4 linked regions of the Homo sapiens genome follow. The protein of the gene in region 2 interacts with the protein of the main gene of each other region in a pairwise test. Each region holds a gene or a part of one and is shown on either strand. Other genes may lie near its edges.

Evidence for each region.
Region 1: the proteins of SH3GL2 (region 2) and PTPN23 interact in a two-hybrid assay, tested with the Homo sapiens proteins (one study listed by BioGRID and IntAct).
Region 3: the proteins of SH3GL2 (region 2) and EGFL6 interact in a two-hybrid assay, tested with the Homo sapiens proteins (2 studies listed by BioGRID and IntAct).
Region 4: the proteins of SH3GL2 (region 2) and PAXIP1 interact in a two-hybrid assay, tested with the Homo sapiens proteins (one study listed by BioGRID and IntAct).

What each region holds. Positions count from the first base shown.
Region 1 is NC_000003.12:47,376,639-47,384,022, reverse strand, and holds the start of PTPN23 (tyrosine-protein phosphatase non-receptor type 23), read right to left. Parts: upstream 3,003-7,384; 5' UTR 2,927-3,002; coding exon 2,843-2,926; exon of another isoform or gene 2,531-2,842; intron 1-2,530. UniProt on the Homo sapiens protein: Plays a role in sorting of endocytic ubiquitinated cargos into multivesicular bodies (MVBs) via its interaction with the ESCRT-I complex (endosomal sorting complex required for transport I), and possibly also other ESCRT complexes.
Region 2 is NC_000009.12:17,574,302-17,582,081, reverse strand, and holds the start of SH3GL2 (endophilin-A1), read right to left. Parts: upstream 3,017-7,780; 5' UTR 2,840-3,016; coding exon 2,795-2,839; intron 1-2,794. UniProt on the Homo sapiens protein: Implicated in synaptic vesicle endocytosis. May recruit other proteins to membranes with high curvature. Required for BDNF-dependent dendrite outgrowth.
Region 3 is NC_000023.11:13,565,260-13,572,619, reverse strand, and holds the start of EGFL6 (epidermal growth factor-like protein 6 isoform 1 precursor), read right to left. Parts: upstream 3,020-7,360; 5' UTR 2,759-3,019; coding exon 2,685-2,758; intron 1-2,684.
Region 4 is NC_000007.14:154,965,112-154,972,133, forward strand, and holds part of PAXIP1 (PAX-interacting protein 1), read right to left. Parts: exon of another isoform or gene 6,096-7,022; intron 4,978-6,095; exon of another isoform or gene 4,943-4,977; intron 4,016-4,942; coding exon 3,292-4,015; intron 2,800-3,291; coding exon 2,705-2,799; intron 1-2,704.

The sequences.
Region 1 (7,384 bases), on a different chromosome or scaffold from region 2:
AATTAAATTCTAACCCTCAGCTCCAATTCACTGGCAGAGGTTCCCACAGCTCAGAGCAAGCATAAAGCAGGACAAGGGTGCCAGTGGCAGAAGGCAGAGAAGGGGCTCTGCAGTTGGGGAAGGGGGTGCAGGTTGGGAAGAGTCCCCAGGCTGCAGTGGTGTCTGCACAGTCTCCTCCAGTGTCTATAGGAGTAATTGTTTCATATCTGATACCACCTCGGGCTAAAGGGCTAATGAGCAACTCCTCTCCTGGAGGCCCAGGTGCATGGAGGGAAGTCACTGGTCACACAATACCCTTTGGGTCGGTGTGAATCGTCAGAGCAGCAAAGGCTAAGTTCAAACAAAAATACTTCCTAGGAGTTTCTGGGCCAAGATTTTATCTACTGCATTCCCATATATTTATGGTCACCATCTCTAAATTTCCGCTCAGCTGTAATTCAATCATTTGAGAAATATTTTTCTGACTGCCAACTATGTAGAGGGTACACTGTTAGGCTCTGGGGAACACAGAGATGCTTCTCAGGTAACACACACTTGAACAGGGGGGTTAAAACACAGCATACATAACTGTCACCAGGGAAAGGATGAAAAGAGTTAAGGAATTAAGAGAAGAGAAAGATTAATCCAGGTAGAAAGATTAAGAAAGGCTCTGCAGAAAGGAGAGCTTAAGTAGACCTTGAAAGTTGGATGGGAGACAAGAAAATGGAATTCACGGAGATTGAAGAAGGGCACCTCACCACCCCACAGGGCAAAATGAGACCTCTTCTAGGCAGGAGGAATTCCATGACCAACGGCACAGAAGAGGAAACAGAGTATGGTAAGGAAACAGCAAGTGACTGAGAACAGAATCTAGGGTACCTCTATCAGATGCACACAGTAGATGAAGCACACAGTGGGGACTCAATAAATGCTGAAAGAAGTGGGATAAGTCTGGAAGAACTCTAATGGAAAACTAAAGATACTGGCTCTATTCCAAGACTCCGTCTCCAAAAAAAAGATACCGGATCTATTCTGTAAAACAGAAAACAGGAGTTTTGGCCAGGCGCGGTGGCTCATGCCTATAATCCCAGCACTTTGGGAGGCCAAGGTGGGTGGATCACGGGTCGGGAGATCGAGACTATCCTGGCTAACACGATGAAACCCCCTCTCCACTAAAAATACAAAAAATTAGGCAGGGGTGGTGGCGGGTGCCTGTAGTCCCAGCTACTTGGGAGGCTGAGGCAGGAGAATGGCGTGAACCCGGGAGGCGGAGCTTGCAGTGAGCTGAGATTGCGCCACTGCACTCCAGCCTGGGTGACAGAGTGAGACTCCGTCTCAAAAAAAAAAAAAAAAAAAAAAAAAAGAAAAGAAAAAGAAAACAGGAGTTCTGTTGTGTCTTAGAAAAATTCATCCAATTGTATTTGTATGAAACAGCAGATGAAGGCCTGTAATCCCAGCACTTTGGGAGGCCGAGGCAAGCGGATCACCTGATGTCAGGAGTTCGAGACCAGTCTGACCAACATGGCAAAACCCCATCTCTAATAAAAATACAAAATTAGCCGGGCATGGTGGCGCATGCCTGTAATTCCAGCTACTTGGAAGGCTGAGGCAGGAGAATCGCTTAAACCCGGGAGGCTGACGTTGCGGTGAGCCGAGATCGTGCCATTGCACTCCAGCCTGGGCAACAAGAGCGAAACTCCGTCTCAAAAAAAAAAAAAAAGGTAGGAAAAAGAAACAGCAGATGAAGAAGAGAGCAACGTCTGGATAACCGTTAACAAAATTCTAGAATTTTGGATCAATTACCCTCATTTCCTGGCCCCAAGAGGCTAGATGATGGACTCAAACACTGTCTGAACTAAGGCAATGGTGTATGGCGATTAGAGGGGAGACAGCTTCTTGGGAAACTACTTCCAAACCCATTTTCTTTTTCCTATTTGTCTTCCCAAGCGTCTCGCTAAGTGGTGCACCATCTAGATTGGGGCTTACTCTGGCATCTGCTGTGCTAAGCCCACAAGGCCCCCCACCTGCGACGGCCTCCTGGTTGTTCCTTTTCATTTCTGCTCTAGCCCTCAGTGCTACCAATACAGCGGATGTCTCGGAGGGCACCTGTGTTCAATCACCACACCTGAACCTCTCCACAGAAGTTCCTTGCCTTAGTCAACGCCAAACCTGCCCGTCTGTTCTTCCAACACAGTAAGATTTCTCTGAGCTCTACAACACTGTTTATGCCCTCCAGTCGGTTACGAAAAGCAGTAACCCTCCTAAAAATGTCGTGGGATTGTATTGTTTGGTCCAAAGAGACTCCCGAATGGGAGACCATACAGAATCGCAGCAATTGTAAAACAAACCCTCACCGCAGGGGTCGGGCATCTCCCTGGGCCACCGGGGCTCACGTCTTAAACACACGCCCCTGAGCCATCCCCAGTGTCTGTCCCAGGCGGGCGTGGACTTGACAGCGCACCGAGGGCCGGGCGCAGCAAAAGAATCCGCACGGTCAGGGCCGCCCACCGCTCCCGCGCGGGGCGGTCCTGGCATGGAGGAGGGGCGGGGCAGAACTGGGTCCGAGCGTCAGAAGGAGGAAGTGTGCTGCCTCAGTGGGAACAGCGGATGACTCGGGGCAGAAGTCGGGAACCGGGTTCAGATGAAGATGCAGGTGCTAGCACGGGGCTATCGGGGAGGAGAAGAATGGCCTGCGGGCGCCGGGGTGTGGGACAGGCTGAGGAAAACCGGCGAAGGCCCCTCCTGGCCTCACCGGACCCTGCGACCGGGCCTGAGGAGGTGATGGGCGCGCAGGGGGGCGTCACGCGCTTGCAGACGACGGAGATACGCGGCGGATAGGGGGGAAGATGGAAGGCAAGCTCACCTTCTTCACAGCTGGCTGGAAGTGAAAGTCACCGGCCTCCTTCAGGTCCAGCCAGATCATGGGCATGCGGGGCACGGCCTCCATGGCGGCTGGCACCCGCCGGCCACCCGGCCACTCCCGTAGCTGCTGCAGCTGCTGGCTCAGCCACGAGCCCAGCCCCGCCCCTTCGTGCCGGAAGTCACTGGTCACGGGAGGGAATGAAAAATGCCAGCGGCCTGCCGGGAGTTGCAGTGAACCCAGCCACCCGCTCGCGTAGTCTTTTGCGCAGGCGCTGTCCCTGTTGCGCATGCTCAGTCTTCTTCGCGCGGAGGGAGTAGGGCGGGGAGGAGCTCGCCAGCCCGAGGCGAAACGGCTTCTGGGATAGTAGTCTTCATCCACTAAACTGAGAGGCGCGGAGCGAGCTTATTCCCCGCTCCCGGGCCAAGCCCAGCTGCGGGTCCCGCCCGCCGCGCTCCTCCCTCCTAGGAAGAGCATGAGACCTCACCTATGAACTTGCCCTCCCACGTATTGTCAAGAGCCGTGGAGGACTGGTGCTGTGGTAGAGATGACGTGGCGGGCGGGCCGCTGGAAAGAGATGACGCGAAAACGGGCCTTAGAGAGGGTGCGGAGGGAGCACCTGGCCTGAAGGAGTCGGGGCTGAGAGCTGGGGGTTTCAGTCCCAGTGCTGCGAAGGCTTTCGAGCTTTGGAACAGAATCACTGACCGGAGACTGGCCTACTCAGCCCAGCCTGGGAGGCCGGGCAGTGCCCAAGGGAGACGGACGATAGGGAGGGAGCGCCTGGATGGAGGGTCTCAAGCGGAGTGAGGAGGCCCCGGGCCCTGTGGGGAAGTGGGTGGGGGAAGGTATACGGCCAGGTGAGCACCCAGGGACGCCCACAGTATCTGGAAGGAGACCACGGAATGGAGAGCACCTGTTGCCTCTGGAGAGGGGACCTATAGAGCAGGAATTGTTAAATCATATGGCTGTATCACCTACTTTTAGAAATAAATAATAGGCTACTCGGGAGGCTGAGGCTGGAGGTTCAATCGCTTGACCTGGGAGGCGGAGATTGCGGTGAGCCTAGATCTTGCCACTGCTCTCCAGCCTGAGCGACAGAGCGAGACTCCGTCTCAAAATAATAATAGTAACAATAGAAATAACAGAGAATGGCCTGGAGATAGTGAGTGCAAAAGTGCGAGCTGGGAGATCAGTGAGCCTTTTGTAGTCTTCCAGGAGACAGGTGATTGTGGCTTGGAGCAGAGGGAAGTAAAAAGTGAGCAAAGAAATATTTTGCCCACTTTGAGAAATATTTGAGGAATATTTTGGAGACAAAAGTATCAGAACTTGGAATGGATGGATGTAAGGGCATGAGGACGTCGAATATGATTTCCAAGCTTCTGGCTTGTGCAGGTGGGTGGCTGTGGGGCTGTTTACTGATAAGGGAAAACAAGGGAAGAGCAAAGGTTCAGGTCCGTGTTAAGCTCGAGGTCAAGGCCTTTGACTCGTTCTGGATGAAATGTGGAGACCACGATGCCGGGTGCGGTGGTTCACGCTTGTAATCCCATCACTTTGGGAGGCCGAGGCGGGCGGATCGCTTAAGCCCGGGAGTTCAAGACCAGCCTAGCCCACATGGCCAAACCCCGTCCCTACAAAAAATATAAAAATTAGCAGGACATGGTGGCTCATGTACGCCTGTAGTCCCAGCTACTCAGGAGGCTGAGGCGGGAGGAACCTTGAGCCCGGGAGGCAGAGGTTGCAGTGAGCCGTGATTGTGCCATTGTACTCCAGCCTGGGCGACAAAAGTGAAACCATGTGTTAAAAAAAAAAAAAAGAAAAGAAAAAGAAAAATTATGGAGACCGTGGGATGTGGGTGGGATCTGGGATTCTAAGACAGGCTTCACCCACAAGGTAGAGCCCAGGTCCCTTTGTTGTGAGACCTCAAACCCTTTCAAGACTTAGTCAAGGGCCTAGCTTCATTCCAGTTGGAGTTAGAGCAGAAGAAAATGAAATTACATGAATGTTCATAGCAGTACCATTTCACAGTAGCCAAAAGAGAAGCAATCCATGCAGTGATGGATGGATGCATGAATAAAGATGATGTGTGTACATACAATGGAATATTATTCAGCCTTAAAAAGGAATGAAATTCTGTTACATGCTGCAACATGAATGAACCCTGAAGACATTATGCTAAGTGAAATAAGCCAGTTGCAAAAGGACAAATACTGTATTCTGCTTATCTGAGATACCTAGTTAGTCAGAGTTATGGAGACAGAAAGTAGAATGGTGTCTGTTGGGCTAGGGGAGGGGAGAATGGAGAGTTACTGTTTAATGGCTGTATAACAATCTGAACAATTTAATGCCACTGAACTGTATGCTTGAAATTGTAAACTTTGTGGCTGGGCACGGTAGCTCACACCTGTAATTCCAGCACTTTGGGAGGCCAAGGCGAGTGGATCGCCTGATTTGGGAGTTCAAGACCAGCCTGACCAACAGGGAGAAACCCCATCTCTACTAAAAATGCAAAATTAGCCGGGCCTGATGGTGCATGCCTGTAATCCCAGCTACTCGGGAGGCTGAGGCAGGAGAATCGCTGAACCCGGGAAGCGGAGGTCGCGGTGAGCCAAGATTTGTGCCATTGCACTCCAGCCTGGGCAACAAAGAGCGAAACTCTGTCTCAAAAAAAAAAAAGAAAAATTGTAAACTTTGTTAGGTATATTTTACCACAGTTTAAAAAAAATAAAATATAAGACCTTGCAAATAATTTATTTAAAGAGAAAGAAAAATTTTGCCAGTTCTTCCAGCATCTTAGAAGAGCTTGTTTCTGGAAGACTTTTTTTTCTTTGAGACAGAGTCTTGCTCTGTTTGCCCAGGCCAGAGTGCAATGGTGTGATGTCGGCTCACTGCAGCCTTGGCCTCCTGAGCTCACTCAATTCTCCAACCTCAGCCTCCCTAGTGGCTGGAGTACAGGCGTGTGCCACCAGGCCTGGCTAATTTTTTCTTGTATTTTTTGTAGAGATGGGTTTTTGCCATGTTGCCCAGGCTGGTCTTGAACTCCTAGGCTCAAGCAATCTGCCTGTCTCAGCCTCCCAAAGTGCTGGGATTACAGACAAGAGCCACTGCGCCCAGCCTGGAAGACCATCTTGAGGTCACCTGGACAGAGATAGAGAAATTTTGGGCAAAGCTGGGCATGGTGGCTCACGCCTGTAATCCCAGCACTTTTGGAGGCCAAGGCGGGCGGATCACTTGAGGTCAGGAGTTCAAGACCAACCTGGCTAATATAGTGAAACTCCACCTCTACTAAAAATACAAAAATTAGCTGGGTGTGGTGGCGTGTGGCTGTAGTCCCAGCTACTAGGGAGGCTGAGGCAAGACAATCGCTTGAACCTGGGAGGTGGAGGTTGCAGTGAGCCAAGATTGCACGACTGCACTCCAGCCTGGGTGACAGAGCAAGACTCTGTCTCAAAACAAACACAAGAAAGAAAGTATGGGAAGGCCTACAACCTGCAAAACTGCCCGAACACAATTTGTAGTAAGTAAAATACAAAAGCATAAAGCAGCCTACCTTGGGGCTTTCTGATGGTGAGGCAGTGGTCAGCCATGAGGGAGCTGCAAGACCTAGGCACAACAGCTGAGTCCAGAGCAGGCTGGGAATTGGGAGACTACATCATAGCATTACTGAGCAAAGAAGCAGGCGGCTGCTTGGCCACAGGACACAGACAGCCCAGGACCCAAACTTGAGGCCAGCAAGGGGTCAGGATTAAGCTGTTGCAGTTCAGTATGGGCTGGAACAGGAAGTGAGAGAGGAAGGGGAGAAGTAGGAAGCCCTAAATTGGGCCTTGCAAGACAGAGAAGACCTATAGAGATGGGCATTCCAGGCAGGTGGAATTGCAGATGCAAGAGGGAGCTCTGGCGAGGCTCCAGGATTCAGGAGAGCTGGGCAGATGGGTCCCTATCTCATGAGCTTCCTACAGTGATAGCTTTGGCCCTACTGCCTTTCCTTCCCCTGGCCTCTACTCCCGAGGTGGAATGGGAACACCTTGTCCCCACATGGTGCTTCTGGAGTTGAACTACAACAAAAGAAATAAAGTATTCTGTGAGTTCCAGGGTGTATTCATTTGCTAGAGTGGCCATAGGAAAGTACCACATACTGAGTAGGTTAAGCAGAAATGTATTTCCTCACAGTTCTGGAGGCTAGAGGTCTGAGATAAGGTATTAGTAGAGTTGGTTTCTTCTGAGGCCTCTCTCTTTGGCTTGTTAATGGCCATCTTATCCCTGGGCCTGGTGACCCTGCCTTTAAACTCAGTCACATTCTGAGGTACTGGAGGTTAGGACTTCAAACATGAAATGAGGAGTAATGGAGGGGGCACATTTAGCCCATAACACAGGGTCACAGTGACATGAAGGGCAATTGGTGTGAAAGGCATCAAAGACCAAGAGGACCTTCACAGGCCTTGAATGCTGAGGGCGGGGATGGGTTGGTGGAGGTGAGACAGCAGAAAGGGTGACTCCGGGGCAGGGAGTGCCCTCCTAACATGTATTTCCAGGCAGGGTTGGGAGTTA
Region 2 (7,780 bases):
GTTTTATTTATCATCGCTTACTAACACAAGCAAAAAAGCTCAATTCCATAGAAAGAAACGTTTGCGTGAACAGACTCCTTCCACTTATAAACCCAGGCTATAGGCCAGGTGCGGGGGCTCAGCCTGTAATCGAGGCGGGCAGATCACCTGAGGTCAGGAGTTCGAGACCAGCCTGGTTAACATGGCTAAACCCTGTCTCTACTAAAAATACAAAAATTAGCTGAGCGTGGTAGTGCATGCCTATAATCCCAGCTACTCAGGAGGCTGAGGCAGGAGAATCGCCTGAACACAGGAGGCAGAGGTTGCAGTATGCTGAGATCACGCCATTGCACTCCTGCCTGGGCGACAAGAGTCAAACTTTGTCTCAAATGAATAAATAAATAAACAAACAAACAAACCCAGGCTATATTATCCAGCACATCAGTTCTCAAAAGGAAGTAATTCTAGGTCTAAAGCTTCTCTGTAGATAACATCAGGTTCACGGACCTGATGGAAAAAAATGGCTACAAAAGTAGGACAGGACTATTTCTCTAATTTTTTTGTCACATGCAAACATTAACATGGGCTTTACATACTCTCCTAAATATACATATGCACAGAACAGTCACCTGTGCCTTAGACTTTCTAAGAGTGTGCTACACTAAATTATGGATAAGAGACTACGTGCTGCTTCACCTTTCAAATAAAAGGCTTTTCAGTAAAAGGAAGACAATGACGCAGTGATTCTGCATTTGGATTCGGTGTGATAAACATTAACCGTATCGCATCACATGCCGACCTTCTCCAACCTTTTAAGTTCTTTCCTAACGCAGTTTAAATTATTTTTTCTACACTTTAGGGCGACACAGAACTTCAAGATTTAGCGGAAATGGAGCGCTCTATTTTTTAAGTTGGAAAAACTAAAAGGTCTAGCTTGGGTAACTTCTTCACAGCATAAGGGATAGTATTTTATACTAATAAAAATATCCTTTATGTCAATAACTATAATTTATTGAACACTTTATACGTGTGTTCTACACACTCGTTTCTCTTCACCTCAACCCTGAAGAGACAACGGAAATTATCATCACTTCAGCATGGACAGGTTCAGAAGTTAAATACTCTCTCAAGGTCAGAAGCAGCAGAGGCAGGATTCAAACCTTAGCCTTTCCCACTCCAAAGCCAAGACTCTTAATTGCCTTTGAGGGCACTAAGCTTTGCAAAAGAAATCTTTAGAATCCAAGTGGAAAAAAGATGTGTTGGTAAACGCAGTGCTGAGATATGCTATAGAGAAGTGACCAGTAGAGCAATCAAAAAGGTTAGTAATATCGAAGAAGTCCTGCCACAGAATTCCTGGGCAGCACATATGCTTGGTTCTGTAAACCTGAAAGAACTTGCAGTATAAAGTTATTAGAAGCCTTCCAAACTACATCAACAAACAAATCACTTACTTTCATAAACATGTCTGGCAGAGAGGTCACAGATAACTCCAATTATAATAGAAAAGCAAAAATAATTACATTAAGAAACATTTTTACAGAAATAGTCTTACTTTTCTTGATTTCCTAAGTTGACAGGTATAATTGATTCTATAAAGGCAAGAATGTGTGATGAAGATGATGCAGATGCGTGCAAACACACACACGACGGGAATTACATGCTGCATCTGTCACCCTAAGTTAACCAAGGTTCTGTAAAACACAACCCTCACCTTTTCTGGATGTGGTTCATAACAAGGCTGCCACTGTGGTAGCCTAGGAAAAACCTCACTACTTCCGAGAAATTATGAGAAAGCTCGTTAATTAAGGCTAACCTATGAAAAACTATTTAACACCAAATCATGAAAAACATTTCGCGGTAAGTCATCAAAATCCTTAAAGATCCCATAAATTTGAACCTATTTCAGAAGGATAAAAAAGTAGTAATCACACACATTATGTAAGAAATAGGTCACAGCGTAAGTATTCGCTTACTTGCCCCTATGTAAAATTCTTTGAGTCCAATGATTTTAATTATTAGAATCTAAATTAATCAGTTTTATTACAGTCACAGCTTATTAACCCCATAAAGAAAAATGGGCACATCCAAGATGCCAAAGATTTATTAAAAACAATTTAAAATACATGATGATTTTAAGTCTTCAACAATTTGGTTGTTTTAGGGAAATATTTAAGACCCGCAGACTGTTTGTCATGCCCTGGCCTCAAAGGAGTTTCACGACCGAGTTCTCCAGGTAAAAGTTAATGTATGCGGGTCCCTAAAGGAAGACCCCAGCCTTCCATTCCCCTGGAGCCTGCGGGCGGCGGGGAAGGAGGGTTCTGACAACAGGGTAAGGGAGAGGAGCGCAAACCGCCGGCCTCCGCCCCGCCACCCCCAGTGCGGCCACCGCTCATGCCAACACATCCCGGGAAAGCCGGGTGCACCGACTCCGCAAGGTCACCCGTGAAGAGGCGACTTTACATAATCTCCCACCGCGCCGCCAAGGCACCTGCGCGCCGCGGCAGCAGTGCAGCCGCGGTCCCCTTCCTGCAGCACGGGCGCGAGATGATGCGGGGGCGGCGAGCAGCGCTACCAGGCAGGACGCCGGGGACCCGCGGGAAGGCAGCGCGCACCAAGCCGGGGGCGGGGGACCGAGGGTGGACGCCCAGACCGGGGATGCCCCGAGCCGCCGCCTTGGCTTGCGAGGCGGGGCGCGGCCGGCGCGGGCGAGGCTCGGTGCCGAACTCCCCAAGCTGCCGCCGGACGGCCAGCGCCGAGCGCGCCCCTCGCAGCTTCGCCCCGGACTGCCCCGGGACGCACCTGCCGCGCGCCTTACCTGAGTGGCTTTATGGAACTGCTTCTTGAGGCCGGCCACCGACATGGTGCAGGAGGCCGCGCTGGCGGCTGCTGTGCGGGAGGGAGGAGGCGGAGGGGGACTGGAGGGCCGAGCGGGGCGGCGCGCTCCCCTGGCCGCCTCTGGTCGTGCCGCCGCCGGGGCTATGGGCGCGAGGGCGCGGAGCCTAGCGGGACACGGGCTCTTGCGGAGAAACACTCTGACGTCAAGGGCGGGTGATGCGGCCTCTTAAAGGGGACGCGGGAAGCCCCGCCCCAAGCGCGGGAACGCCCAGGCAGGTGCTGTGGCGCGCGGTACCTGGATGCTGGCGCCAACTGCGGGGATGTGGCTCAGCGGCACCCGCTGGCGGATCCCTAGTCAGCGGGCCGAGGACGTCCTCCTGTCCCGGGGTTGGTGTTCCTGCCCCCGGGGGCTGCGGACGGGTCGCTGCAGATTGGCAGCCCAGGCACCCGCAGGACTCAGGTGACTTGCTGGGCTTCCAGGTAGCCGCGGCGGCGCTGCCTGCAGACGGCCCTCCTGCCCTTTGAGCCTGGCGTCTCTGCGCCGCAGCCTGAAAAAGACTGGCCTTCTATCTGGGCTAATGAATAAGTCATTGCTCCTTCTATGCCTTGCCCTGACTGGTGGGTCACAGAAAACATTTCTCTGCCCTGGTTTCAATATCCCTTAAGCCCATCTTACCTTAGGGAAAGTCACACACGCGTTTTCCCCCTTGTCTGATACAATTTAATGACTTAAAAAGAAGAACAGGAACCCTTAAGCCTGGACGGATAAATAGAATTGAAGTCTTACTACAAAACTAGCGTTCAATCCTCTGGTTACAGAAATGAAAAAGCCCAAATGTGATCTTGTTGTTATGCTTGTGGATTTAGGGTTTCCGGTCCGATAAAAATCAAAATATAATGTGAAAAAGCATGATACTAAGTTATATACAGATGCTTCATATGTAACCAAGGAGGTATGGCTGGCTAAAGTGAAACTAATAGATGACTTGGGAGCAGAGCAGCACTAAATGCCTTCTGTGCTCTGGTACTTAACCAAGTCTGGTTTTTCTAGGACTGAGGAGGTGGTCAGAAAGAACTTAGACGCTGTCCCCGTATGTGGACCAAAGTGATAAGAAGGAGAAGCCAAGATGGGAGAAATTGCCAAGGATGTGTAGAGACTGCAAGGCCAAATGGGAGTCCTAGAAATACTTTTTCTGTCTCCGCAACTCCTGCAGCCTGATAGGAGCCACAGACCCATCCCCACTCTTCTAGGCACTGCGGCTTGGGCACAGGGTGAACACCTGCTACAAAAGGGTCCTCCATCCGTAGAGCTACCAGTCATGGTCCTTCTTGATAATGTGAACTGACACACACAAAGGCAGAGTCAAGCAGTGGTGGGCACTGGAGCAGTAGAGCGCATGGACTAGGGACGCAGGCTGCAAAGGGAGGCAGATGAAAGGAGCTATTCTCCAGTGTGGTAGCCCTTACCACTGTTCATATACCTTTCCCTACATGGCAGAATTGCACTTTCCAAACCTCTTGTTAAGTGGAGGCATGGTTACAAGTTTTGACTAGAGGTTTAAGAGGAAAAGTGACTGTCACTTCTGCAGCAGCAATATGAGATGTATGAGATGCCGCAAAGCTTTCTTTTCCTCGGCCGCAATATTCTAGAAAGCTGTGGTCTGTCAGCCAGTATCCAGAGTGAGACTAAAGCAGTGCAGAGTCCCCACCTGACGTTCAATGGGCATGTAGCATCAGTGAGAAACCTGAGTAATTTTAATCCACTGAGGCTCCGGTTGTTAGGAATAAACTTTTTTCTCTATGTTTCCAATTTTTAAAAAGGCTACCCATTACTTGCATAATAGAAAAAAAAGTATTTTATAGTTAATTTTTACTACCAGGTCCCTGATCTGAACAATAAAGCATTTTCATAAGACAGGGCTTTGTTGAAGCTGCCAAAAGATAGAGCAATTGATCTACAAAGTGGAAGGGCCTGGGATGGATAGGAGCTCTGCTCTCTAACAGTGAAAGGTGTGAAATGGGGGCCTGAATTGCCTCCTTGGAACTTTGAATACTTAACTGAGCCCTACATTATAAAAAAGGCAGTTTCTATCTTTCCCTGGTTCTTCATCCACCAACCTGGAAGTCTCATGCTGCTTAACTTCAAAGAAACTACCTTGGGAGAAAAAAACTACTTAAGGGCATTACATTAAATCCTTTGGAAACCATTGATTTAGTCGCCCAGGCATCCTCTGCACCTCATCTTATATGGTTTGGCTGTGTCCCCACCCAAATCTCATCTTGAATTGTAACTCTCACAATTCCCACGTGTCGTGGGAGGAACCCAGTGGGAGTGATTGAATTATGGGGGTGGGTCTTTCCTACACTGTTCTCGTGGTAGTGAATGAGTCTTACAAGATCTGATGGTTTTAAAAACAGGAGTGTCTAGTTCAACCATTGTGGAAGTCAGTGTGGCGATTCCTCAGGGATCTAGAACTAGAAATACCATTTGACCCAGCCATCCCATTACTGGGTATATACCCAAAGGACTATAAATCATGCTGCTATAAAGACACATGCACACGTATGTTTATTGCGGCATTATTCACAATAGCAAAGACTTGGAACCAACCCAAATGTCCAACAATGATAGACTGGATTAAGAAAATGTGGCACATATACACCATGGAATACTATGCAGCCATAAAAAATGATGAGTTCATGTCCTTTGTAGGGACATGGATGAAATTGGAAATCATCATTCTCAGTAAACTATCGCAAGAACAAAAAACCAAACACCGCATATTCTCACTCATAGGTGGGAATTGAACAATGAGATCACATGGACACAGGAAGGGGAACATCACACTCTGGGGACTGTTGTGGGGTGGGGGGAGGGGGGAGGGATAGCACTGGGAGATAAACCTAATGCTAGATGACGAGTTAATGGGTGCAGCACACCAGCATGGCACATGTATACATATGTAACTAACCTGCACAATGTGCACATGTACCCTAAAACTTAAAATATAATAATAAAAGAAAAAAAAAACAAACAGGAGTTTCCCTGCACAAGCTCTCTTCTCTTGTCTGCTGCCATGTGAGAGGTGCCTTTCACCTTCTGCCATGATTGTCAGGCCTCCCCAGCCAGGTGGAACTGTGAATCCAATTAAACTTCTTTCTTTTGTAAATTGCCCAGTCTCAGGTATGTCTTTATCAGCAGCGTAAAAACAGACTGATACATCATCTAAACCCAGCATTTGTATTGAAGCCACAATTTATGCCTGTAAAGACCTTTGAGATGTCACCTTTGAAGAAATTTGTTAAGCTCCTCCTACTAGCAAGCATCATGGTAGGAGATGCTGGGATTGAGAAGGGGAAGTATCGAGGCATGTATGGGCTGGACCTTGAATCCCAAGGGGTTTCCAGACGAGTAATTTGAAAAAAAAATCTTCCTAGGGACATTTATTGTTACTTGAATACAGAGGAACAAATACCCCAGACACTGAACAATTCTAAGCATGGATGCCATCTTTGGTTGCAAAGAATCTTCAACAGAGGCTTTGGAGAGAAATGCAGAAGCACAATGCAGGGAAAGGGGAATCAAAAGTCAACGAGGAAGAGCTTTGTTTGGTAAAAGGTTGTGGTAATTCAGCATGCTGCCCTAGTCTCCCGAGATAAAAATCAATGTAAACTGTTAAATAAACCTAGATCTGCTCAGGAAAGTCCCAATTAAATGAAACCCCCACAAAATATCACCTCACTAATTGGGCAGTAAATTCGTGGTCAGCAATAATCCCATCACATCATTCATGCACTATTTCTCCTTGCATTATGGTAAAGCTTCTGGCAAATACCAGACCTCTCATTTGCACAGAGCTGCTGCATCCCTGGCACCTTTCAGAGGGTCCCTAGCTTCAAGGAGGCAGAGGAAAAGCAGCAGCATTCATCTTTCTGAGCTTCAACCCCTGTCTCTGTGCCTCTGGCTCATACCGGGGCAAACTACTCCTGACTTCATGTGTAAGCTCGTTAAGCATAAGAAACATTGCAAAGCAAAGGCATTAAACTCCAACTTCTTATTTTAGAGATAGGAAAACAGAGGCAATGAAGGGAAGTGACTTATCCTTACTTTTTCTACTCCAGCCTTTAGCCTCAATTCAGGGTAGAGCCTCTAGTCAGTGTTAATAAATAGAAGAGGTTTGAATGAATGAATGAATGAATAAAAGAATGAACAATGTATCATTGACACTGATGCTTTCTTCTGACCACATTGGATCTGATGTTCAAAAGCCTTCACCAGATACTAAAACCTCGATTGCGCAGGACCCAGTTTTTCCAGGGTGAGTGGCGCTTAACATAAGATTTTGTGCCTTTGGATGCGCCCCAGTAGCATTGAACACCCACCTAGCTCAGGCAGGGCTAACACGCCCTTTCCTAGAGATGAGAAATCAAGGGAAAGACCATCTTTGTTTCCTTGCTTCCAGTTTTGTCACCTACCACCCACTCTCCAACAGATACACAGAGAGAAGCATTTTTTTTTAACCTCTTTTGAAGTGGATGTGTGGGTCTTTCTGCCGGGGATGGCCACCTTTCCCACCTTTCCTTCTCTCCCATATAGCCCTCCTCCCCCCAAAGTACAGGGGCCTCTCCCTGCAAAAACTTCCTTTTCACTTAGATAAACCCTTTTAACCCAATCACAGAGGAGAAGAAAGTGCTTAACCAAGTGGGTGACTCATGTTAGACTCTTCATCTGTACCATCATCACTATTTCCATTGCAGATTGAAATAGTTCTGACTTCCCCACAAAATCCTGCCACCTCCAGTGCCCATTTGCAGTGTTTTTCCTTTGAAGTCTTTCCCCATCCTTTTACCCTCGTGTCCTCTCTTTATTTTTGAAGCCTCAGCCCTGATTGTGTTGTATTTGGCCTAATATGTACCATAGACATGCTTACCTCTTTGAGTGCAGGGTCTTTATAACTCTTCACAG
Region 3 (7,360 bases), on a different chromosome or scaffold from region 2:
AACGTTAATCTCCAGAATAGCAAAGTTAATAATATATTTATCTTAGGTACTCAAGGCAAAAAGATCCCAGTGTTAGGACTTAGAACACTCGAGATGGAGTTCAGATCAATAAGTGTTCTAGACCAGCACTGTCCAATAGAAATAAATATCCATATATGCCATTTAAAATTTTCTAGTAGCCACATTTTTTAAATGCTAAAGAAACAGAAGCAATTAATCTTAATAACAATTTTATCTAATGCAGTATATCCACATTACCATTTCAACATGTAATCAATATCAAATGATTAGTGAGATAGTTCCTGTTCTTTTTTTTGAAAATTAGATGTGTATTTGATACTTTTTGCAGCACATCTCAACTTGGACTGGTCACATTTCAGGTATTCAATAGCCACTTGGGGCTCCTGGTTACCATCTTTGCTGTATTGGACAGGTCTAGGGTATCTAAATAGTTCCAATACCCAAAGGACATAAAAAATATAAGGCAAGCCAAATTCTGAAGCTTAAGGGCAGGTACATGCATGGAGCTAATGATTTATTCATTTGATGAGCGTTAATTGTGTACTATGCACTAAATACCATTTAAGAAGCACATAATTTTCTAGGTTATAAAATCATAGTGCAGTGTTTCAATTAAAAAGAACTGATGCTTATACTGGAAATCTCTATACAGCAGCCACAGTTTTTCCTATAAGTTGTGAAACCCCAGGAAATAACCAGTAGACACAGTTTTCTGCAATGGGTGCCTTGCCTTCTCTGTAACAGTGTCTTATCCATAATGTGGAATCTAGAGCTGATTAAACATGGGTCCTGGACATTCCTGAAGAGCTGACCACTTGACATTTCCAAGCACATTGAGCAAATAATAAACACACCAGCTCATAAACTTGATAATCGTCTAAAGAAACCATGGTTCACATCTTGAAAACTGCAGAATTGCAGAATCCTGACATGGATTCTCCAGTTTAATATGCTTTGGTTTATCCAGGGGCTTTTGGCTTTTAATTTAATTTGGTGGCACTTTGAAAGTGAAGCTCCTGGAGGTCAGTTTGCTGGCCGCTAAAGAACTATTAATCTCATCTCCAAACAGCATTTGGTCTTTTTTAAGTGGGCTTTCTAGCAACGCAAGAACCTCTAGCATTCAAGGAAAATGTGATTATGAGCAAATTGCATCTGCTTACATTTTTATCATGAAAAGGAAATTGAAACTTGCGATCATACATTCTAAGAACCTGGTTTGAGGTTTGTTCTGTTTTAACTTCGAAATCCTTTAATACCATGGCTAACTCTGATGAAATATTTTTTCCTGTAAGTCAAACAAAGATAGGCAAACCTTCGAGAAGCCTGTACCAAACCAAAGCTCTTATCCTACTCTCCTCAGGAATCATCACTGAAAAATTTCTATAGTTCAGCAGTCTCCGCTAGGAGCAATTGTGCCCTCCAGGGACCTTGGGCAATATCCCAAACCTTTTTTTTGTTGCCACAACTTGGTGGTGGTGGTGGTGGTGGGGGGTGGGGTGGGGTCAAGGTTGCTACTAGTATCTAGTGAGTAGAGGCCACAGGTGCTGCTAAACATCCTACAATGCACAGGGCAGCCCATCACCCCAACAAATAATTATCCAGCCCAGCCCGAAAGGTCAATAATGCTGCGGTGGAAAAACCATATTCTAGTGGACACCTAAGTAGAAAGCAAGACATCACAGTTAGAGAACCAGAAAACCTCTTCCGTTGCCGGAAGGCTGCCCTAGTGCCCTGGTGAAGAACAGACTTTGGGCCAGAATACCTAGGTTTGCACCCTGGCTCCATCTCTTACTGGCTATGCTTCCTCAGGCAAATTACTTTACCTCTCTGTGCCTCGTTTTTCTCTTCTACAACACGGAGATGATGATAATAGTACCTTACACACAGAGCCATTATGGCTTTGGGTAGGTTAATAGTCCTGAAGTGCTTAGAACAGTGCCAGGTCGACAGTCACCATGTAAGCGTGCATTTACTAAGCGTCTTTGCCGATCTCTGGAAAAAATATTTCAGGTCTCAGCTAAGCTTAAGGGCAGTAGGGAACGGCTTCAGAGTCTGCATTGCCATAGCAAGAATGAGAATGGTTGTCATCTGACAACCGTGTCCTTTCTTTCCAGTTCATCAACCCTAATCAGAGAGCAGTGAGGAGAGCAGCCCGGCTGGCTCAGCTCAAGAACAGTAAATGCTTTATCGTCCTCGGTTTCTTTCCCTCCTTCCCCAGCAAAACTAGCGACTGACAAGCACTTGGTGTCCTGTGAATAGAGTGGAAAACACAAAACCGCACAGACACAGAACCCACCCACCGACACGCATACCAACCCTCACACACCTGCCCCTACAGCAGGTCTGCAGACCATCAAGCCCGCACGCACCCACGGGTCTGCGTGCAGAGCCTCCCTCCTCCTGCAACCCTCCGGACGCAGCCAGGTGGGGCACAGCTGATGCAAAAGGAGCTAACTAGGTGCAAAGCCCCGCCACAGGAGAGCAGGGAGGAAAGCCCGTGGGCGCTCCCGGCCTGGTATCCAGGTTAAATCCCGTCGCAGCGCGCACAGGCACACGTGCACACTCACACCCATACACGCGGGGGTGCCTGCAAAGACATGGGGCCCCAAAGCGGGACCTCAGGCCGGGGGTGGGGGGAAGCCAATCGCCAGTCAGACACTCACCTGGCCGCGTTCCCGAAACCACCTGCCACCCAGGAGAGCAGCAGCGGGAGCGCAAGGCTCCAGGGCAGAGGCATTCTCGCACGGGTCCTCCTTCCTCCTCCTGAGCCCCCCTCGGGAGGGCGCCGGCCGGACCCCGTAGCAGCTAAGCCGCCGCCTCCTCTCTCCTCAGCCGCTCGGGTCCTCCGCTCCACTCGCAGTTACCGGGTGCTGTCCCTGCAGTCTGGGAGGGGAGGCCAGGCACCGCGGCAGGGGCGCTCGCGGCCTGGGGAGGGGCTGGGGGCGCCCTGGCAAGCCTGGCCGAGGCTCCTCTGCGGATGAAGCTGGACGGGGTGAGCGAGGGAGGGCGGGGCGGGCTGTGCACATCTGGCTGGGACCCGCCTCCAGCATGACCCGCGCATCCTCCGCGCTCTCTGTTCACCCAGAAACTTCCCCCAGATTCAGGTCACTTCACGCTTGTCAGAGTCACCATCTACTACCATGTATTTCAGGCATGGGGCAAATTTCGGTGATACCTGCACTCCAGGACTTAAGAATTTAGTTGAGAAGTCGAAGCAGGATGGAAGGATGCAGGTTCCTAAGACATGATCCCTCACTTCTCTTTGGGTTTTCACGTTCTCCCGGTTTTCTTCTACAAACTGCAAATAATGGGATGCTAGAGCTGGAAGGTCACTAAGTCCTGGGCAACCCTGTCATTTGGCAAGTAATCTCTCAGGCCCATTTGCAACAGCTTACTTACATGGGACCCCAGATGACATCCCAATATAGTAACCAGTGCAGAAATTCATGGCAGAAACATGAATGCTATATGAATTCAGATCCATTTGGGTACTGACACATTCTTTGTTCTGACAACGTGTTACATTAGAATGAATGACTGATCCCTTTCTGTCCTTCCTACGTCCACACCCTTTGGCTTCATGGTAGGCAGACACTATGACCCCACACCTTGGCTTTGGACTTGGCCGTGTGACTTGTTTGATCAATGGTTTAAGGGCAGAAAAGTTGCAGTGTTCCAGTTCCAAGCCTAGGTCTTAACACACCTGACCCTCTATCATGGACATGAGAAGACCTTGCACCACCTAGCCTGGTGGTCCAAGGCGAATGAGAAACAGGTGAAAAAGCTACCTCGTCAACCTGCAGATCTATAGCTTGAAGCAGAGCTACTCGGTGGAGCCTCATGTATATTACCCAATCCACACGTATATGAATGAGCTCAGCTAAGGTTGCCCGGCACCAGCCAATCTACTGAGGCTTATTGTGATAGTCCTCTGACACACAGTGGCCCAGTGTGAGAAATGAAATGAAAAAGGATACAGAGAAAGAGGAGGTTTATCTTGATTGGAAGCTTGATTCATGGTTTTATAGGCATATGCCTTAATTCTGGCCAATGAAATGTGAGAAGTAGGGAGGGGGGAGATTCTTGCTGCAGAATCTTGCTTTACATTGTAATAGATGTTCTTATTGGTGCAAGCCATGTTTAGTTGGGACTTCTATTTTACAGTTGAAGGTATCCCCATGGATTCAGTATTCTTGGGTAACTAGTTAGACCATTGAGCTGCTCGTAATTAATAGTGTCAGACCTTGTCCTAAACACATATGTTATCTGATTGAACATCCACAAGCCTGTGGATGGAGACCATTAGTTCCCCCATGTTTGAAGTGTCAAGAAACTGAGTCGGAGAGGTTAAGCAGCTTGCCCGACCAAGGTCATACAGCTAACAAGTATAGAACCAGAACTGGAAACCAGGGCTTTTCCCCATTGGGCTCTGCTGCTGTTATATCAATCTCTTTTCTCATCTTCTCACGTATTGGCAGATTCACATGTCAGATGAGTATCATGAATAAGGTAATAAGATGAGCTCTTCAAGGTTGTCATCAAAACACTTTGAACTCTTCATACCATAACTTATTTTATTTACTGAAATATTAAAACTAAAAGAAAATAATATAAGTTATGAACTCTATACCTGTGAGGATCTTAAAGAAAATGGAATATAAAATTTGTCTTGTTGTGGGTTTCCCCACAAGCAGGCCCTGAGGCAAGGATTCAAGTAAAAGTAGTTTATTCTGGAGGTACAGAGAACATGGGTAGGTGAGTGAGGAAATGAGTTGGGAAAGAAGACAATATCAGGCATATATTAAGTTATCATTGTGAGCAACTGGAGGTTCATGCTGCTGGGGATCTCCCAGAGCCAGCATAGAACAAGCATCTCCAAATGATTTTACCTAAAAGGCAAGGGAACTGGGTATTTATACACCACTTCCATTCACTCATTACCTGAAAGCTTCAACTGTGGTACTGATCCTAGAACTCAGTCTTCTGTGCTGAAGACAGAGTGGGGCTTACAGCCAAAGAAAGCCCTCAGGCAAATGGCTAGTGATACTGACTGTTGAAGGTCCTACTGAAATGTAAGGCCTGAGGGGATACGGGTAGTGGCATGACATTGGCAGCTACCTAATATCTGGAACTTGAATCGAATTAAAAATTATGGATTTTTGCCCATGCCACTTCTCCCTTAACATTTGGATACTAATCACTCCCTCCTCCAAATAAACCATTACTCAAAAAAGTCCTAACTAAACATGATTAGTCTAAAATGTGAGGGCTATCTGCCTTCTTAGTCCTGAGTTACAAAGTCAGAATAACATCTTGCATTGACATTATCTGTAACTTTCTAGCTTTAGTTTCAGTATTTTGATGCTTTGTGCTTTTTCTTTGTCAGCTGAATTCTCTTTTGTAGGCTTAAAGGAGGTAATGGACATTACAACAGGAAACTTTGGGGGAGGTCAAACACTCCCCAGCCAACCCACCTATTATTTCCTGGGGGAGCTGTGAACAAAAGAGCTGTCACATAATATGAGCAACAGAGAAGGAACCTGCAAATGATGTGTTGCCAGGTGAGAAGATGTTGGATACAAATTGCCACATGGAGGCAGTTGTTTTTAGTAACTGCACTGGTGTTGCTGACTTTGAAGAGGAACCTGGAAACTGATCTTTAGGGGACCCTACTTCATCATTCTACAGAGAAAAAACAATCTTTGATCAGAATCTCATAAAATCGTCCGTGCCTTTTACAGGGCTACATTTTCTTCCAATCTATTTCCACTTAACCCCCTGTGTGGAACAGGTGTGATGGGATATTTCTGTGCTTTCTGAATACATATACATGACACACGTATAAAACTTTTAACACTTACAATGTGCCAGGCACTGAGATCTAAAAATTATTGTAATATCAGCACCAAAAGCAAAGCATTGTCAGAAGAAAGAGCTGCATAGAAGAGTGCCTAGGCCAGTGTTTTCAAGATTTAATGTCAGTACAGGTTGCCTGGGGATCTTGTTAAAATGCAGATTCTGTTTATTTAGGTCTGAGGTAAGGTCTGAGAATCTTAATTACTAAAAAGATCTCAAGCGACACCCATGCTGCTTGTCTGAGGACCACACTAGGGGTAGTGAGGGTCCAGAAATCACCTGGATCAGTAGTTCTCAAGTTTATCTGCACATTGGGATCACCTGGGAAGCTTTGAAACTACTGATGTCTGGGGCTCCACCTTCCAAGATGCTAATGTCTGGGCTATGGCTAGAGCATGGGCACTTTCAGAAACCCCTCTGGTGATTCTAATGAACAGCTGATGTTGAGAACCACTAATATGAACCAACTCCCACATTTTACAGATGCAAAAGCTCAGCTCCAGCCTGTGGAGCAACTTTCCTGATGTCCCACATAGGATGAATTAATGTCTCTGTGTTTCTACTATAGAGTCCTCCCCTTCAAACGTCATGATGTTTTATTGATCATCATTCCTACTGAAGACAAAACTGGCAACTCTTAATTGTTAATCTTCTGTGTTAACTGTAGCCCAGTGCCTTGTTCTAGAAATTGATATATTTTCCTGGTCTGTTTCTTTCCATTTCTTCTTATTCAGTGAAAGGAGTCAATGAAGAATTATATGTCTTTTGATGCAGACACTGCTAAATTCAGTATGGGAAGGTGTTTCTTGAGATACACATCAATTTTCTTCATCCTGTGCCTGTCAAGAACCCTGCTCTTGGAGCTCTATGGTAGAAGAAAAGTCCCAATCACTTTCAATCTTCTTTTCCTTTCTTTTCCACCCATCCCTCCTTTTCTCTCTCTCTGTTCCTTTCCTTCTTTCTTGCTCACACATTTATTGGGGCCCTACAAAGTGCTGGGCCCTGTGCCAAGTAGTGGGGGCCCTTGGTGGAAATGTGTCCACCAGACAGTTCCTGTTTCTTTTTTCTCCCTGGTAAAGTGGGCTGGACGACTAACACGTGGTTCTTAGAATGTCTGGTCTCCCTCAACAATATAATTCTCACCTCTTGTAGGGCAGGAAAAAAAAACTAAGGCAAGATTAAAAGGGAAAAAATGACACCTTGATGCATTTTTCTCTCAAGTTTTGCTAGGTCTTAGAACTCACCACTTAGTAATTGAGGGAGAGGAAGAAATTGATATTTGTAGAATGATTATTATATGTTAGATATTTTAAAAAGAGTAATCATTTAATCTTGACAACACCTGTTTAAGGTGGGCATTATTATCCCATTTTACAGATGAGGAATGTGAGGTTTAGAGCAGCTAAATATCTTGTCTAAGATTACCTAGCAATGTAATGAAAAGAACATGGGCTTTGAAGTCAGACCTCACTGGAGATTAATT
Region 4 (7,022 bases), on a different chromosome or scaffold from region 2:
GACACCATAACGCTGCGGGTTTTCCCTCTATCTTGGGTCACACCCCCTGGGGAAGGGAGCCAGCTGTCATGCTGTGAAGACACACAACCAGCCCTCTGGAGAGCCTCTGTGGTGAGGAGCTGAGGCCTCCAGCCCACAGCCATGTGACGGAACCATCCTGGAAGGGGCTCCTGCAGCCTCCGCTGGCATCCTGACTGCAACCTCAGGAGATAGCTGAGCCACAACCGCCCTGCCAAGCTGTTGCAGGATTTCTGACCCACGACCAAACTGAGAGGTAATGTTTATTGTTTTAAGCCACTGGGTTTTGAGATAATCTGTTACACAGCAAGAGAAAATGAATGTAGTATCACCTATACTTAAGCAACACAGGTGTGAACTGTGTGGGTCCACTGATAGCTGGATTTTCTTCCACCTCTGCCACCCCTGAGGGAGTAAGACCAGCCCCTCCTGTCCCTCCTCCTCCTAGGCCCACTCATCGTGAAAACGACGAGGATGAAGACCTTTATGATGATATACTTCCCCTTAATGAATAGTACATATATTTTCTCTTCCTTATGATTTTCTTAATAACATTTTCTTTTCTTTAGCTTACTTTATTGTAAGAATATGGTAATACATATACAAAATATGCGTTAATTGCCTGTTTATCAGTAAGGCTTCTGGTTAACACCAGGCTATTAGTAATTTGGGTTTTCGGGAATCAAAAGTGATGTACAGATCTCTGATTGCATGGGGGTGAGCACCCCTAGGCCCCACACTGTTCAGGGGTCAGCGGTACATGTCTCTCCTCAATCTACCAGTGTTTTCGTTTGCTTGCTCCTCCTGGAAGTCTCTCTTCCGGTCCCAGGTCTAGTTCTCTCGACACCTACTTTCTCATCTATTGGCGTTTCCCTTTACCTCCATCCTAGGAACTCTCTTTCAATCTCTGAGTCAAATGCCTCATTTCCTGGCTACCATGTTTCACTCTCTGCTGGCATAGTGGCTTCCTAAGAAAGAATATAAGGGAGGTACATTTTTTACCATTAGTCTACAAATATCCTCCTTCCATAGTCTTATGACTGATAGGCTCTATAGGTTATTTTAGGTTGGAAATTATTTTCCCTCAAAAATGGAAGAAGCTGCTCCATTGCTGGCCCCCGCGCACTGCACTGGAGGCTCCCGAAATCACCCAGACTCCTGATCTGTCCACGTTTCCCCTCCAGTGAGCTTGTCTTTGAGAGAAAACAGTTTTCTCTACCAGCATTGTGAATGTTCCCAGTTGCCTTATCATGGCTCTCCTTACATTTCTTTTCAACCTGAGGGCACATGGCCTTCAGTTGCAAAGCTATTTTCTTTCATAATGTTCTTGCCTTCATTTTCTCTGTTCCCAAGATCCTATTTAATGTTAGACCTCTTGGATAAATCTTTTAACTTGAAAACAAGACAAAAACCCCAAACTTTTCTCCACTAACTTTTGTATCTTTGAGTTTTGTTGTACTTCTCAAGACAGTTTCTCAGTGCTGCCTTCGAACACTTCTGACTTTTAAAAAATCTCTGCTGCTGTCCTTCTCAGAACTGCTCCCTTCCTTCCTCACCCTGGCACATGCCATCCGCCTCTTTCCTCAGCCAGCCACACAGTCATCTCCCTGGTCACCCTCAGATTCAACCCTTTACTATTTAAAATGCACAGCTGATCACTTCACCTGCATCTAAACTTCACCACATGGCACACCAACAAGGTCTTGGAAGACACACCAGCCCTGGCTCCTGCCCCAACCCCTGCCTCGTGGATCCCACTGAGGCACCCTCCTTTGCACCCTCCTGTCAGTTTCACCAATCACATGCCTTTGGCTGTGCTGCACTATTTGGAAAATCCTCCCCCCTAATTCTCACTCCTACTCATCCTATAAGCAGTTCAGGAATCACCTCTCCCAGCAGACTTTTCTTAACACATCACCCCACAACACGATGGGTGAAGGTCCTTTCTCAGGCTCTCACAACAGCCTGCATTTGCCACCCCACCTCTGCTTAGCCGTGTGGCTGCCTCTCGCACTGCTCTTCCGTTTTCTCCGTCTCTGTGATTTCGCACATATTCCCTAAGTCTTGCAGCATGCTTGGCACATAGCAGGGATTTAAGCACTAGGGATGTTTATAGTGAAGCACATTCAAGATATATTAGAGGCATATTTAAACTCGGTTTTTATAAAAAAAATTTTTTGACTCAGTTTTGTTTTGGGGAATGCAAGAAAAAGTATTTCTTTTCTTTAAAGGCCACCATGCATGATAATACATAATTAAATTAACTCCAGTTTCACAATTGGGCTGGAAGAATTTGAGGTTCTAGAGATTCCAGGATTTTCTAACAGTTACCTTTGGAGAAAGAGAAATGACTGAGATGCATACAAATTAATAGTCCCTCTCCCAGGACACCAAAACCCTGAACTTATTTCCATTGCCCCAATTATACACATATAATTAGTGCCCCCTGGAATTTCCAAGCTGAAAAAAATAAAAAGTCCACCATCTTCATCTAACAGCTGAGAAAACTGATGCCCAGAAAAGTGCTGTGCCTCAGGTCACACAGAATGTTAATCAAAATGCCCGTCACACATTCAGAACACGTGCAGGTGCAGCTCAGTGAATGCAGCTAAGTGAACACAGTTACATCTACATAAGAAAGAAGCATCTTCAGACACAGTCATCCTTCCTCCAGGCACAATCTCACCCTTTTCCAGGTGGCCAGCAGTTGCTTATCAGACATCTGCTCTGGATAATCCGCAATTGCAAACACACATCCCAATAAGAAGCCTTCTTCTGGAACTAGAGTAAAATTACATAAGAAAAAGAAAATTAAAACCCTATGAATATGCTTGCACAAAAGTTAAAAAGTGGCGCCTCACAATGTCAATCTGTTATGTTTATCAGTCTTGACCATGACGTATCTGCCAGTAATCAGAGTGCATAGGGAATATTGCTACGAAGATACTATTTAACTGTCTACATCAAATGATCATTAAAAACTAAAACCAAGGTAACTCATGCCTGGCCATTAAATACCCTGAATGAGTCCCTGTGGCAGCCTAGATGTTCTACGGGACACCAATATTCACTTCAGGATATGATGTCCCAAAGTACAAAAGAAAGCATAATTATCCCATGGTAACTATATTCTTTGTTAGGTATGAGACTCACACTCTCCATTTTGTAGTAATTGTTTTGATATGAATCCTCACCCCACACTCAAACACTCTCAAAGCATTTATGTGGGTACAAGACTTTTAGGAGAGAGGAAAAATAATCTCCATTACTAACTCTCCACTGCTGGATCATGTCCAAAAAGCTGATGCTGCTGAGGCGATGGTGGTGGCTGCTGTTGCTGCTGCTGCTGCGGGGGCTGCTGAGGTGGAACCTGATGCTGCAGCGCCTGTGACGTCTGACTCAAGTGTGGCGCTGTCTGACTTTGCATCTGCTGCTGCTGCTGCTGCTGGTGCATGCGCTGGAGCTGCTGCTGCTGAATCTGCTGTTGCTGCTGCTGCTGGAGCAGGCTGTGCTGCTGCTGGAGCTGGGCAAGCTGCTGCTGCTGGAGCTGGTGCTGCTGCAGCTGATGGAACTGCTGCTGCAGGGCATGCTGCTGCTGAAAGGGCTGGAGCTGCTGCTGAGGGCGATGCAGCTGCTGTGGAGGATGCAACTGTTGCTGTGGAAACTGTAGCTGTTGCTGTGAAAACTGATGCGGATGGGCTTGCTGCTGCTGCTGCTGTTGCTGTGAAAATGGATGCGGCGGCTGCTGGGGGTAAGGTTGCTGAGAGATCTGCTGCTGCTGCTGCTGCTGGAGCTGCATTATCTGCTGGGGCTGAAGGTGTAAAACCGGGTGCTGCTGCTGCTGCTGCTGGGCCTGCTGCTGCTGCTGTAGCATGTGTGTCTCTGGAGTCACTTTCACTTGGCTAAACAGCACTGCATTGGCATTTGTATGTCCCTGCTGGCTGTGATTCACCTGCTGTTCTAAATTTTTCGTAGGTGCTGAAAGAGTCTGTAAGATCTACAAAACAAAAGTTAGGTGAAACATTATCAACAGTTCCTGAAACAGATGAATGATAATTTCTTAGTCAAGAGAATGGCATATCCTATTTATTAACAATATTCAACTAAGTAGACACAGCAAATGATTGGAAACTGCAAAAACAATACTGCATTTTCTTTTGTATTTATTTTGTAACGCCAATATCGTAAAGTAAATTCATATATTGAGACCACCAAAATTTGAAACTACATCAGTAAAATGGAGTAAACTAACGAATTAAAGTGACAAAGACTCAGACGGCTGATGTGTTTGCCAGAGCAGGGCATGGGAGTCCTGTGCACACCTGGTAGCTAAGCCTTGGTGCTCCCTGCACCGTGCTGCGGCACCACTCCACTGCCCATCGCCTGCATCAGCTCCGCAGACCCTCTCCTGGCCCAGGAATGCACTGAGGAATGACAGGTGGTGAAGGCATCTGGTAATCGGGCTCAGCCTCACCTCAAACCTTCTCGCCACAGCTGCCACTTCCCATTTCCTCTTGTCTTACAGCCCAGAGTCTAGTAAACAAAGGTTCTCAGTGGATCACCTTCCAGATGAAAGCAGCATGACCCAAGCTGTGAGTCCAAGAGCCTTTCGCTCCACTGTCAACTTGCTATGTGCACTGGCATGCTATGGAAAAGGAGGCCAGCTAAGACACCACCGGGGCTGTTTAAATGGTGATGTTCCTCCCAACTAAGGACTCATCATTAGAGCTGGGAAATGATGCTTCCTCAAAAATGACTGAGTCTTCATGGGGGACACAAAAATATTTCAAGCTAGAAAAAAAGAATTCAAACCAGACTATTTGTCTTCTAGCTCTTTCTGCTTCACAATGACAGGGAATAAGCTGAGAGTTCTGTGTACGCTGAGGAGTAGGAGAAGGACGGTGACCAGCAGATGCCCACCAAGCAGAGTAAGTTATTTTTTTAATATCCTATAGGGCACTGAATACAACAAGAGATACACATTATACAATGAATTTTGTTCAACATGCTCAAGCAACAAAAATTTGAAACCAACTTCTTATGGTCATGGAAATCAGTAAAAATAGATTTTACTTAACTCAATCCATACAACTTTTAACCCTATTAAAAGCATTTAAAATTTAAATAAAATTCTAGGAATTTAACACATATCAGAACTATACCAAAATCTCAAACATATTCTAACATGTATCTTTCACTTAAACAGATTCCAAATTGCAAAGATTATATGACCTGCAAGGGTAACAGATTTTGGATTTAGTAATAAATAAGGGAGTTTAGAATTGAAATAAGTCAAAATCAAGAGCTTGGGCACACCCATCTCTAAAATCACCTTATGTATGAGACATCTCTATAAAAGGATTCAAGACTTCAGAAACACCTGAGTGGAACTCTAAGCAGAAAAATGTCTTTTAAACAAAATAATAAGACAACTGTTTCATCTCCATATTTAAAAGTATTTTTAAAAATCCAGAAAAGAAGATGGGACAATTCACCCCACAACATGCCACCCCATGGAGCCCAGCAGCATTTGGTGCTGTGCAAACACCCCCTAAGAAGCATGCACGTGTGGGGCACCTGCCTGCCTGGTGGGCACCAGCCATGAGCCCTACACGGCAAACTGCTGGAAACAGCGGCTGCCTCTTGAGAAGGTAAACAGCAGCGAGGGGTGGGAGGGGGGCTGAGAGTTTAACTGTTCACTCTGTCCTTTGGTATCATTTGAATTTTTGAATTTTGTACACATATTACTTTTTCACCCTCATATGTAAACAGCCCATGGAACTCTGAGGGATGGTAAAGAAATAAATGCCCGTCTGCAGGTGGACAGGGCTGAACTAGTCATTACCAAATGCTGCTCCCCGCCTCTCTGTACCTGCCAAGCCCAGGTGGAAGGGAGCTCAGGAACAGGCACAGGACCTAGACAAACACAGCAGCAGACATCAGGACAGCACAGAGGCCAGAGGCTCCTATTTTTCAGATTGGCCAAGAGGACTCAGCAGGGTCTGCTGCCTGCAGAAAGTGCTCCATCTGATCTCAGAGGGCTGAGGGAGGCCTAGGTAGGACAGGAGGCAACTTACAGCTGTTTCTACTACGGGCTTGAGTTAAGATGGGTCCTCATCCACTGCTGACCCAGCCCATCCACTGCTGACAGGAGGCAACTTAACAGCTGTTTCTACTACGGGCTTGAGTTAAGATGGGTCTTCATCCACTGCTGACCCACCCCATTAAGGGAGAAGAACAGATGGAGATTCAGGACAAGAGTCCCGGCTAGGAATGAAGATGGCCGTTGGCCTGGAACCTTCTCCACTTGAGGAAGCGAGAGGTGCAGGCCTGGATGGAGAGGAGAAATCTGCAAGGCCAGCCATCGAGATGCCTCCCAAAACCCCTACCACATTCATCCGATCACTTTTTCAACCATCTGATCTGCCTCTGGCTGGAAACATGTTAGTCCTGGAGAACGTAAGAAAAAGAATCTTAATTGCTCAATTACGTAATTGTGCTATACTACAAACAATTCTGAATGAATGTCAAGTTTAAATTTTTCCATCACAACTGTCATAATCCTCATTTACATTAATACTGAGTTACTGAATGCCATATATAGAAAGCAGTATGATACACATCACATGGCTTCTAACCACTATAAATTTGCAATTTAAACAGGATTTTGATGGTAAGTTACACTCCCCCCAACAATCTAATGTTCAACTAAATCTGTCTCATATTTCTAAAGTTTCAGTCATTTTCTTCACATCTAGAAGTAAAACGTCCTTATGTTCTCTTGCATTGCTGAAAGTCTCTCAGAAAATCTCCGCAATTCTTCTCACTAGTGATCAAATCCATTCACTCACTAGAAATGGATGGAGCCTTCTCAGTTTTCCACCGCTAGAGCACACAGCTGAGTATATCAAATTTGTCTCCTAAGGACAATTTCCAGTGCAGAGATGTGCCCAAACTCCCTACTGCAGTCAATTCTTTCCATTTCAAAGTAAATTATTTTGTCT